Linked DNA regions of Homo sapiens: region 1 is linked to region 2. Evidence: fine-mapped expression QTL. A gene starts in region 2. The other region holds a variant in brackets. All regions are shown on one strand. Distances are from middle to middle. Region 1 overlaps DHX35 (DEAH-box helicase 35). Region 2 holds the start of DHX35 (DEAH-box helicase 35).

What was found.
Region 1: its variant is fine-mapped to the expression of DHX35 in whole blood (TOPMed, PIP above 0.99).

The regions. Positions count from the first base shown.
Region 1 is chr20:39,008,293-39,013,670 of GRCh38, reverse strand. DHX35 (DEAH-box helicase 35) reads right to left here. Exons shown (of 22, transcript NM_021931.4): 13 at 3,267-3,391. Among named protein-coding and RNA genes, the nearest start is that of DHX35, 49 kb to the right of the region's middle. The variant T/C (reference allele first, on the strand shown) is at 3,105.
Region 2 is chr20:38,960,034-38,965,411 of GRCh38, reverse strand. DHX35 (DEAH-box helicase 35) reads right to left here and starts at 3,068. Exons shown (of 22, transcript NM_021931.4): 1 at 3,005-3,068. The coding sequence starts at 3,044. RefSeq lists an enhancer at 2,734-3,043 and a silencer at 3,084-3,203.

The sequences.
Region 1 (5,378 bases), 48 kb before region 2:
GAATAGCAATCTCTGAACTAGGCTTTTAACAATTACAGAAAAAGCTAACAAGGTCAGCTCTGACTCAATTCCTGGCCCGATTTCCAGTCAATTAACAAAAAAAACTTATCCCCCTCTCCACAAAAATCTTATCCATAGTATTTTCATCTAATCACATTCACTAGTATTTCTCTGTGACCTCAACTGATTTGGGATAATACAGAAACACTGTTTTAACATATCTGGAATTACTGTTTATGTATAGTTTTAGTGTGGTCTTCTCACTACATGTTTTTCTGTTTTCATTGTTTCTTGCACCCATACAAACTTCACAGTAACTACTTGGGATGGCTGCATAATACTCTATGACAATCATACTCCATAAAAAAGTCAATTTTCTTATTGCTGGGCAATTAAATTGTTCCAGTTTTTCACCATTGTAAATAACATTGCTAAATATACAAAATTATATGTACTCTGTAATTTCAATCATAAAAACCACAATTTCAGGGGATAATAACCAGAAGGAAATATGTGAAGATAAATTTGTATTTTTTTTTTCATTTTTCAACTGTCCAAAAGTTTTACGATAATTTTCATTATTTATATTTTTAAATGTAATATAAATGCTATAAGCATTATCACATATGTAAGCTTTTTTTCTTCTTCTGAATTATTTTTTCAGGAGAAATTTTTATGAGAAGAAATAGCAGACATTTCTACGGCTCATTAAATGTTGTCAGAAAGTCCTCCATGGGGACAGAAACGGTATAACATGGGAGGAATTTACTTTCCCAAATTGTGGCAGTTTTCGATTTCACCATTTTTGTTTATACTCAATCATTTAATTAGTGTAAAGTCAACTGCGCACAGTGGCTCACACCTGTAATCCCAGCACTTTGGGAGGCCAAGGTGGGCAGATCACCTGAGGTCAGGCGTTCAAGACCATCCTGGCCAACATGGCAAAACCCCGTCTCTACTAAAAATACAAAAAATTAACCGAGCATGGTGGCTCTTTCCTGTAGTCCCAGCTACTTGGGAGGCTGAGATACGAGAATCACTTGAACCCAAGAGGCAGAGGTTGCAATGAGCTGAGATCGCACAACTGCACTCCAGCCTGGGTGACAGAGAGAGACTCTGTCTCAAAAAAAAAAAAAATTAGTGTAAAGTCATCCTTTATAGCTATATCAACGTGCAGTCACCTCTCTCCTAGAGAAGCTCAACATGTCCTAATGATAGTTGAAATTTGAATTTGTGCTGTTTTTTTCCTTTAGCTTTATTTAGTGAATATTTACTGTAAATGATGTGCATATAAAAACTCTTCATATTTTTTGAGATACTGATCTGTCATTTCTGTCACTGTATGTTTTTCTTTAATTTTACATGCGGGGCTTTTCATAAGCTTTCAAATCAGCACATACTGTTTATCTTTTCTTTTTTTTTAAGAAAGAGTCTCACCCTATTGCCCAGGCTGGAGTGCAGTGGCACAATCTCAGCTCACTGCAACCTCCACCTCCCGGGTTCAAGCGTTTCTCCTGCCTCAAGCCTCCCAAGTAGCTGGGACTACAGGCGCATGCCACCATGCCTGGCTAATTTTTGTATTTTTAGTAGAGACGGGGTTTCACCATGTTGGCCAGGCTGGTCTTGAAGTCCGGACCTCAAGTGATCCACCTGCCTCGGCCTCCCAAAGTGCTGGGATTACAGGCATAAGCCACCACGCTCAGCCTGTTTATCTTTTCTTTATAATATCTTCTACTCTACACCAATAATCAAAGGGTCCATTTTCCCTATACTTATGGTAAGTACACAATTTTCTTTGGGGGAGTTGATATTTGTATGTTCTATTCTTTCATTCACCTAGTTTACCATCACATATGACATTAGGGACTTTACTATCCAAGAATCCAGACTTTCCAGACTTGTCATATCATATACAGTTGGGAAAAAACAAAGTTCTCAAATCATAAAAATTCTAGAAGAAAATATGAGAGAATATGTATTAACTGACCCAAATATAAGAAGTACTTCATAAGGGCAAGAATAACCAAAGAGGCCGGGGGTGGTGGCTCACGCCTATAATCCTAGCACTTCGGGAGGCCCAGACGGGGTGGATCACCTGACCTGCTCAGGAGTTTGAGACCAGCCTGGTCAACAAGGCAAAACCTTGTCTCTACTAAAAATATAAAAAATTAGCCAGGCGTGGTGGCACACACCTGTAATCCCAGCCACTCAAGAGGCTGAAGCACAAGAATCACTTGAGCCTGGGAGGCAGAGGTTGCAGTGAGCCAAGATGGCACCACTGCACTCCAGCCTGGGCTACAGAGTGAGACTGTCTCAGAAAATAAAGAAAGAAAAAAAGAATAGCCAAAGAAATCATAAAGGCAAAAATAGATTACTGTGAATATGTTTAGAATGTCCACACATTAAAAAAAAAACAGTAAAATATAAATAGAAAATATTTGTAAGAAATATTATAAAAATTAATGTCTTTAATATTCAAAGGACTCTTGAAAATCACTAACTGACACAAATTCTAACAGATAAATAGCTTAACAACTCAGAAGAAATAAAAACTGACTAATAAATGTTTTTATAAAAATCTATCTTATGAAAAATTTAAAAATAATTATAATAAAGGTGATTTCCTCTCTCTGGCCAATCAAATCAGCAAACCCAAAGAAGATAACATGGCACAATGGAAGTACCACAAGGTGGGCATTCAGGCACTGCTAGAGTTGACATTGGTAAAGCAATCTGGCCATGTAACAGGACCCTAAACAGGACAACGGCCCTTTGACCCAGTCATTCTACTCCTAGAAATCATCTCAGGAAGCAATCAGGCACAAGGGTCTTCCTGCAGCTCTATCTAAAGCTGCAGGAAGGATCCCCCAATCATGGTACTCCTGCATCTAGGCCTCTACAAAGACTAGCTGTCCTGGAACTCTCCACTCCTAACCTGGTGAGATTCTATTTGGGTTTCAGGTTTCACCTGGGAGGCCCTTCCTTTGTCTCTCAGAGCCCTGGGCACACTGCTCTGTAATTACCCACTTACTTGTCTCTATTCCCCAGCAGACAAGAACAGGAACTATGTAAGAATAGGAATTGAGGCTACCTTGTCTGGCTGT[T/C]TTCCCCTACGTCCTGCACAGGGCCTGGTTGCAAAGCAGACACACAACACATGACCTGAGTAGGGAAAAAAAGGAAAGATGGCATGCCCTACGACAATGTCCTGACATCCCCCTGTGAGCTCCCTAGCCTCCCTATGGCCCCAGACAGCAGGCAGGACTTACCGACATGAAGTGGAACCTGAGGACATTGTCAATTCCTAGTGCTTTCAGCTGCAGGATGACAGGTGCCAAATTACTACGCTGCATCTCAGGAACCGTAGACTGAGGCAACTTGTCAAAGGCTTCCTCTGAGGATAGGAAATCAGAACTGTTTGGGACCAAATGTCACAATCAAATGCAATCACTATGCCAAGGGACAAATTTTCTTCTCTATCTTGAACAAGGGTCTCTAGGATTCTAGAAGCAGATGCACATGATACCATGATATAAAGTTATTTTTATACTTAGGAAAGACCATTCTATTTTTAAAATGCCTTAGATAAATATATTTGAATACACCTTTATAAAACTTTATCTAAAATTCTGTTTTTTAATGTTTTTTGTCAGCAAAACATTAAATCAAACCAACAAGTACTTGCTGAATCACTATCAGTTCCCAGTTGCCACCATCTCTGTTTGGAATAAGTCAAGGAAGCAAGAGCTTCACATACAAGCAAAGAACAATTTCAAGATAAATCACCAAAATACAACAAATGACCAAATCTTATAAAGAGCAAAAATTGTCCAAATCAAATTTTTAAATCAACAAGCCAGGTACACAATATCATTCCCAGAATCCAATGCTGCCCCAAACCAAGAAATGAATGTTTACATGCCCTACCAGGAAGAAGAGGTGACCTTACACAGGAAAAAGCATCCTAAGACACAGAGATCCCAAGACAGGAAGGGCAGAAAGGGAGGGGGAAGGAGAAGAGACTTTGGAAGAAGGCCTTTTTATAAAAGCTAGGCAGGAAGGGTGGGGAAAAAAGAGGAAGAGATTAACTCATTTTCATGTATATTCAGAAAGCTTAAGGATTATATAGAGAATGCTCCACCCACCAAAACCTCCCACATCAGTCAACATTGTAACTGATGTACACCCTTCTTAAACAATACAAGGGTGACCCAACTTCCATTTAGATCATAAAGCTTTAGTTAACTAGAGGAAAAAAAAAAAAGTGCCATGAAGAAATACCACTATCCCCGAAAAACTTCAGAAAGGTTTTCTTTGAGAAAACAGACAACCAATATTCTGTGGACTAATTGATACAAATTGGGTCTAACTAGAAGGTTCTGGATGACGGCCAACAGCAGGAAGTTCCAAATGAGCTACTTCCTTTAGTTTCAAGAGAATTTGGGGTACAGCTTCTTGATAGGATAACCCCATTTTCCAAGCACACTACTAACCAAAGGAGAAACAAAGTTAACACATAAGAGGACCACCCTGCTGAAAAGCTCACAGGAAGTGGGTGTTTCCTAAAAGTTCAATGACAGGCAAGCTCTCCTGAGGACTCAAGTGTGTGAAGCATGGGGCCAGAAGCTGTAGGAGTCACAGCCAATCCCCTTGAAAAGCTTCAGTGATATGCAGGGGCCTGGGACCTGGACCAGAAACAGTTGACCCTCAAGGAGAAATAGGAAAAGTCCCAAGGAGTGGTCCTCCCAAAGAGAAATGGAGGCTCAGGGAAGGAGGAAGCAGGGTGGCTGGAAGAAGGCCTCCAGGGAAGCTGCATGTTGCCATTTGAGGGAGGATTTGAAGGACAAGGAGGATCTGTTGGGCAAAGAGGAAACAGCTCAAGGAAAAGGTATCTAAGCGTTTCTCATGCAGAGAGCATGTCGTGTAGTAGTTCAGCTGAGAAGCAATTTGTAGTGGTTAGTAGGAGAAGATAAGCTGAGGAAAAATCCTGGATGGTTTGAGAAAATGTGGAGGGTCTGAGCAGGTGGTACCCTGTTCAAAGCAATACTTTCTGGAGGCTCCTGTGGAGGCCTAGAGGCTGGACACCAATGCACTCATTACAGTCAGGGGCCCTCCCCAACCCCACTTCCACTAAACTGCTCATGCAAAGGGATTCAGTGACTTTTCACCCAAATCCACCTGCCTATCTTTAGTCCATGATTTCTTGGCACATGAGATAATGCTGGCCTCTTTAAAAGTAACTTGAGCTCCTTAAAAGTTAAACAAAATTACATATAACCCTGTAATAGCCAAAACGAATTAAAAACACCTACTCAAGTACATGTACATGCAGGTTCATACCAGCACTATTCACAATAGCCAAAAGGCAAAAACAGCCCAAA
Region 2 (5,378 bases):
CTCAGGCCTACAGGATATGTTCATGATTTGAATGTCTAGCCTTATATCAGCTTCCCTGACTTTCACCTTGCATTTCCCACAACCTACTTCATATCTTGAATTTCCTCACTAAAATAAGAGTATTACTGTCATCACAGAGATACTGTGACTGTTTAATAAGATGTGTAAATGAAAGTGACTAACACAAAGCAACGGCCCAATAACTGTGTACTAAAGCTATTCCCATGTCAACTAATGACAACACAATTTACCTAGACCAGTGGTTCCCAAATTTTGATGCATGCTGGAATTCCTTAGAGACTTTAAAAAACACTGATGCCTGGCTCCTAGGCCTCCAAAGTTCTAATTTATTGGTGTGAGGTGCAAGTGCACATCAGGACTTTTCAGAGCTTCCCAAGTGATTCAACTATAAAGCAAAATTAGAGAATCACTAACCTAGACAGTCACCCAGCCCAGAAATCTGAGTTATTACTGACTTCATCTTCTCCCACATCTTCCTCTAAAATGTCTCTCCAACAGGCACCTCCTCTAAGCTCCCAGGTCAGAATTAAGGTTTTTAACATCCCTCCTGGATTTCACTAGTACCTTCTCTAATTTCCTCCTCCATCCACTCTCTACTCCACTGCCAGTGTTATCTTTCTAAAGTAAACCTGATTTGTTCCTGCTTAAAAACACTGAAGTCAGGCCAGGCCCAGTGGCTCACGCCTGTAATCCCAACACTTTGGGAGGCCGAGGTGGGCAGATCACGGGATCAAAAGATTGAGATCATCCTGGCCACCATGCTGAAACTCCATCTCTACTAAAAATACAAAAATTAGCTAGGTGTGGTGGCACACACCTGTAGTCCCAGCTACTCAGGAGGCTGAGGCAGGAGAATCGCTTGAACCTGGGAGGTGGAAGTTCCAGTGAGCCGAGATTGCGCCACTGCACTCCAGCCTGGGCGGCTGAGCCAGACTCCATCTCAAAAAAAAAAAAGAAAGAAAACAAAAAAACAGTGAAGTCTAAACTTTTTAACTTGTCATGAAGACCTTTCACAATGAGGCCCTTACCTACTTTTCTAGCTTCATCTCCTGTCATACCCCAAAATATACCCTAGCACTTAACACTATCACACTGCTCTGTTATTTTGGCTTTCTGGACATTCTAAAGGCACAAATCCCATTCTGCCTTTGTTCATGCTGCACCCTTTGCTTCGAGTTCCATTTCTCTATGAAACAAAACCTTATTCATCCTTTAATGTTCACTCCAAAAATACCACCTTAATGAAGTATTTCTTATCCATACATTCAACTTTCCCTCCCTCTTCCATACTTCCATATAATTATAATAGTAACCTATCTAGTGCCAAGATCCTGTTGTGTGTTATTCTCATTTAAACCTCACAACACTACTTTGGGTAGGGTAGGTATTATACCCAATTTACAGATGGAGTAACTGAGACTTTGAGAATTTAAGTGACTATCAAGTCATCAACTTAGTAAGTGGTAGACATGATGGGCACTGCAGTCTGACTCTAGAGCTCATCTTCTTTACCACCACCTTACTCTGTCTCATTGTAAAATCTCTTCTAGAGGACATCTAACTTTATATTCAATTAAGAGAGAGACAGTAACTTGAGAGCAGAGCCCTGAGCATCTGTATTTGTCTCCTGAACACAGGATTAGGTTTTCAATAAGTGTACCCTCAATGGATGAACTAAATAATGAAATAGAACTCTTAAGAGTAATTCCACGTTCTTTAACCAAAATAGTACCCTGGTCTGATTTCAAACAATTAATTCAGCTCTTTATTATACCTAACACTTTCACCTGTTACTAAAAGCGTGAATAAATTAAAAGTATTCATTACTTAGTAAGTTCCTAGTTTTGGATGCAAATAAAACTCAGGATGGATAATTGGCTGATGACTTGAAATGCTGAACCATAAAACTGTCAAGTGACAGACTACAAATTTTTAAAAAGCATTAAACATATCTCTTGCTTGGGTTTATCTCTCACATCACTTATATGCATGGTCAGAATTTCAGAGAACCACTGAAAAATTAAAAGCTTTGCTTATATTACATTCTTGGTGTCATTTCATTTTTGCTGCAATATACTTTGCACATCCAGACCTGCAGGGGTGCAGGTGGTAGAAAAAAATCAAGCTGGTAGCTGTAATTTAAAAACTTTTGTTTTTTACAAGAAACTGTTTGCAGAGAGGAAGTAATGCATCTAGTACGGTCTGGCATATGCACATTCAGTAAAAACCTGATTAATGAGTAAATATCAAGACAAAACAAGTAAAGCATTTTGTGATTGTGATTCGTGTTAGTCTGTAAGAGAGGAAGTGGCTGGCAGCCAATATGAAGGACTGTTCCCTTTTCTAGTAGACATTCGGAGTGGACAACAATTATCCTAAAAGAAAATAACACACTTTCCCTTTTTTTGAGCATTTATTCTAAGTCTGACAACGCGTTCTGCTTGTCATTTAAGCCCACAGCATAGAAGCTATTGTTCTGCCCACTTTACAGGTAAAGAAGTCATGGCTCAGAGGCATTAAGTGACTCGCCCAAGGTCACCCTACTACAAGGCAGAGACGAAAATTCGAACCCGGACAGTCTGACTCCATAACTTGGGCTTGCAAGCCTCCAGCAGCGAGCAGCATTGTCTGTCGGGCCACAGCGCAACCCCAGGGCGCTAACGAGACACGAGAGGGAGCTTTAGGATTCCCCATCTCGCGGGGTGGGCAGGACAAGCATCAGTAACGAGGAAGACGAGGCCTGAGGAGGCTGGACCACTTTAACAAGGTCACAAAGAGTTTCTGCTCACGCTAGGGGAGCACCCCCAAATCCCTCGGGACCACTGGGGAGCCTGAGCCAGAGCTCCCCCCGCACAGAGGCGGCAGCGCCCAGCTCGCCGAGGTCAGGCCTGCGAGCAGGTCTGCTGGCCCCAGGGCGCCGGCCGCGGCGCCAAGACCGAAGTCAGGCCGCCGCATCTGCCCAGCGTTCCACCAAGGGCCTTACCGGGTCGCCAGAACTTCACCGGTCCCACGGGCGCAGCCATGTTGGGGTAAAAGGTCACGAGGCTAGCTCCACCCCACCGTCGCGCGCTAGGCCCCCAGGGCCCGGAGGGCGTGGCCCCCGAAGAGCCGCTGCCCAGACGGATCGCGCCGTGTGACGGCCACGCCCCCACAGCTACCGCCCCCGTCTGAGCCACGTGACCCACTTCCAGGCTCCGGCGAGCGCACCGGCCCCGCCCCCGAGCCCACGTGACCCTGCTCAGCCATTTTGGAGAAAAGGGCGCGCTCCTCCGCCTACCTCTTGAGCGTGGAGGGTAGATGCTTCAGGTGACCTTTTACGAGCGTGGCGTGTCCTGGATGGCGGCCGCACACTTAGGAAGAACGGGCTTTGGGAGAGGACCGCTGGCCCGAGAGTGGAACCTTGCACGCACTGGGCGTTGAAGCAGTGCTTTCTGGATTAAATACGAAATACTGATGTCACAAGCTACCTCAACTTGTCGACTTCTGTTTTATTCTCAATTTCAAATTGAAGGGTAATAATAGGAACTACCTCGTGGGTTGTATTTGTCAGTAAATATTGCGCGCCTGCTGTGGGCCCAGGTAGTGCGGCACAGTGCCCCAAATAAAACAATGCGAAATGATATGGAAGTCTTCAGGGACCTTGAGGGCAAAACGGAAAAACGGACTGGGGGTGGGGTGGAGCGAATGGGTTGGCAGAAGAGACTGAAAATGGGTAGATCAATTAAGGTAGTCCACCAACTCAGTGCTTCCTCCAATTTGATACCCTTGAGTCAAATGCTTGTTAAAAACACAGATTCTAGGCCTTGATCCAATTCTGAATCGATGTCCTGGAGCATGGCTTGGGAACCTGCATTTTGAGAAGCTCCTGAATTCTTCAGATTAACAAATTTGGGAAAGATTACACTAATCCATCAGACGAAAGGTGAGGTCAAAGAAAAAGAAATTACAGTAATCCAAAGGAGCGCTAAGAAGGGGTGATGAGCTCAAGTGGAGGAAATAACTTTCTAGGTAGGCAACTAATTGGAAGGAAGTGAGAGGCTTCAGAATCTATGCATTTTTAAAGCTGTGAAGAAAATTCTGAATTCTTTGAAAGAAGTGGCATCATTATGGCAAGAGCAGGGGCTTTTGTGGACAACCAGTCCAGACTTGGAATCGTAACTTTGCCATTTCCTAGCTCCTAGCTGTCATTTAATTTTAGTTGTAAAATGAGGTTTAAAGAGGTATTACATGAGATAACATGTAAAGTACCTAACAGTGCAAAACATAGCAGGCACTGAATCAATGTTAGCTCTCATTACCTCAACTCAGAGCAAATCCACCAGGGGGAAAAAAATCTGAATTTACCTGCATAGGTTCATGTAAGAATCTTCTTTGATTTATTTTTATAGTAATTAATGTAGGGACTCAATATCTGTTAGTCCCTCGGCCTAGAATTCTCCATCCATCCTTTAAATTATCTTTATCCCTTAAAGGGCTAGCTCTAAATTATCTATCCAACTTAAACATTCCCCCTTGTAGTCTAGGAACTGTATTCTCACTTTTGTGAGAAAAGTGACCTGTAGTTTAGTTGCCTGTAGTTTACCTGCCGCCACTATTACACAGGGAACTTACTGAGGACGAGGACCATGTCACATTCACATTCGTGGCCCAGTAACAAGTGCCTATTGAGTGTAGATAAACATCATGCTTTAGGCTTAGTTTTAGTTGATCTGTAGTTTACCTGCCGCCACTATTACACAGGGAACTTACTGAGGACGAGGACCATGTCACATTCACATTCGTAGCCCAGTAACAAGTGCCTATTGAGTGTAGATAAACATCATGCTTTAGGCTTAGTTTTAGTTGATCTGTAGTTTACCTGCCGCCACTATTACACAGGGAACTTACTGAAGACAAGGACCATGTCAGCATTCACATTCACATTCACATTCGTAGCCCAATAACAGTGCCTATTGAGTAATGTATAGATAAACATCATGCTTTAGGCTTAGTTTTAGTTGATCTGTGGTTTACCTGCCGCCACTATTACACAGGGAACTTACTGAGGACGAGGACCATGGCACATTCACATTCGTAGCCCAGTAGCAGTGCCTATTGAGTAATATACAGATAAACATCATGCTTTAGGCTTAGTTTTAGTTCTTCATGACATTGATTTTTCCTTGTTTTATTTTTGTCTTATTTTACTAACAGCCCAAATACGGAAACCAAGGTTTATACATGAATATAAGGCAAAATGAAATAAATGCCACTTTTAAGATTATTTCATGGCCTGGCACGGTGGCTCACACCTGTAATCCCAGCACTTTGGGAGACTGAGGCAGGCAGATCAACTGAGGTAAGAGTTCGAGACCAGC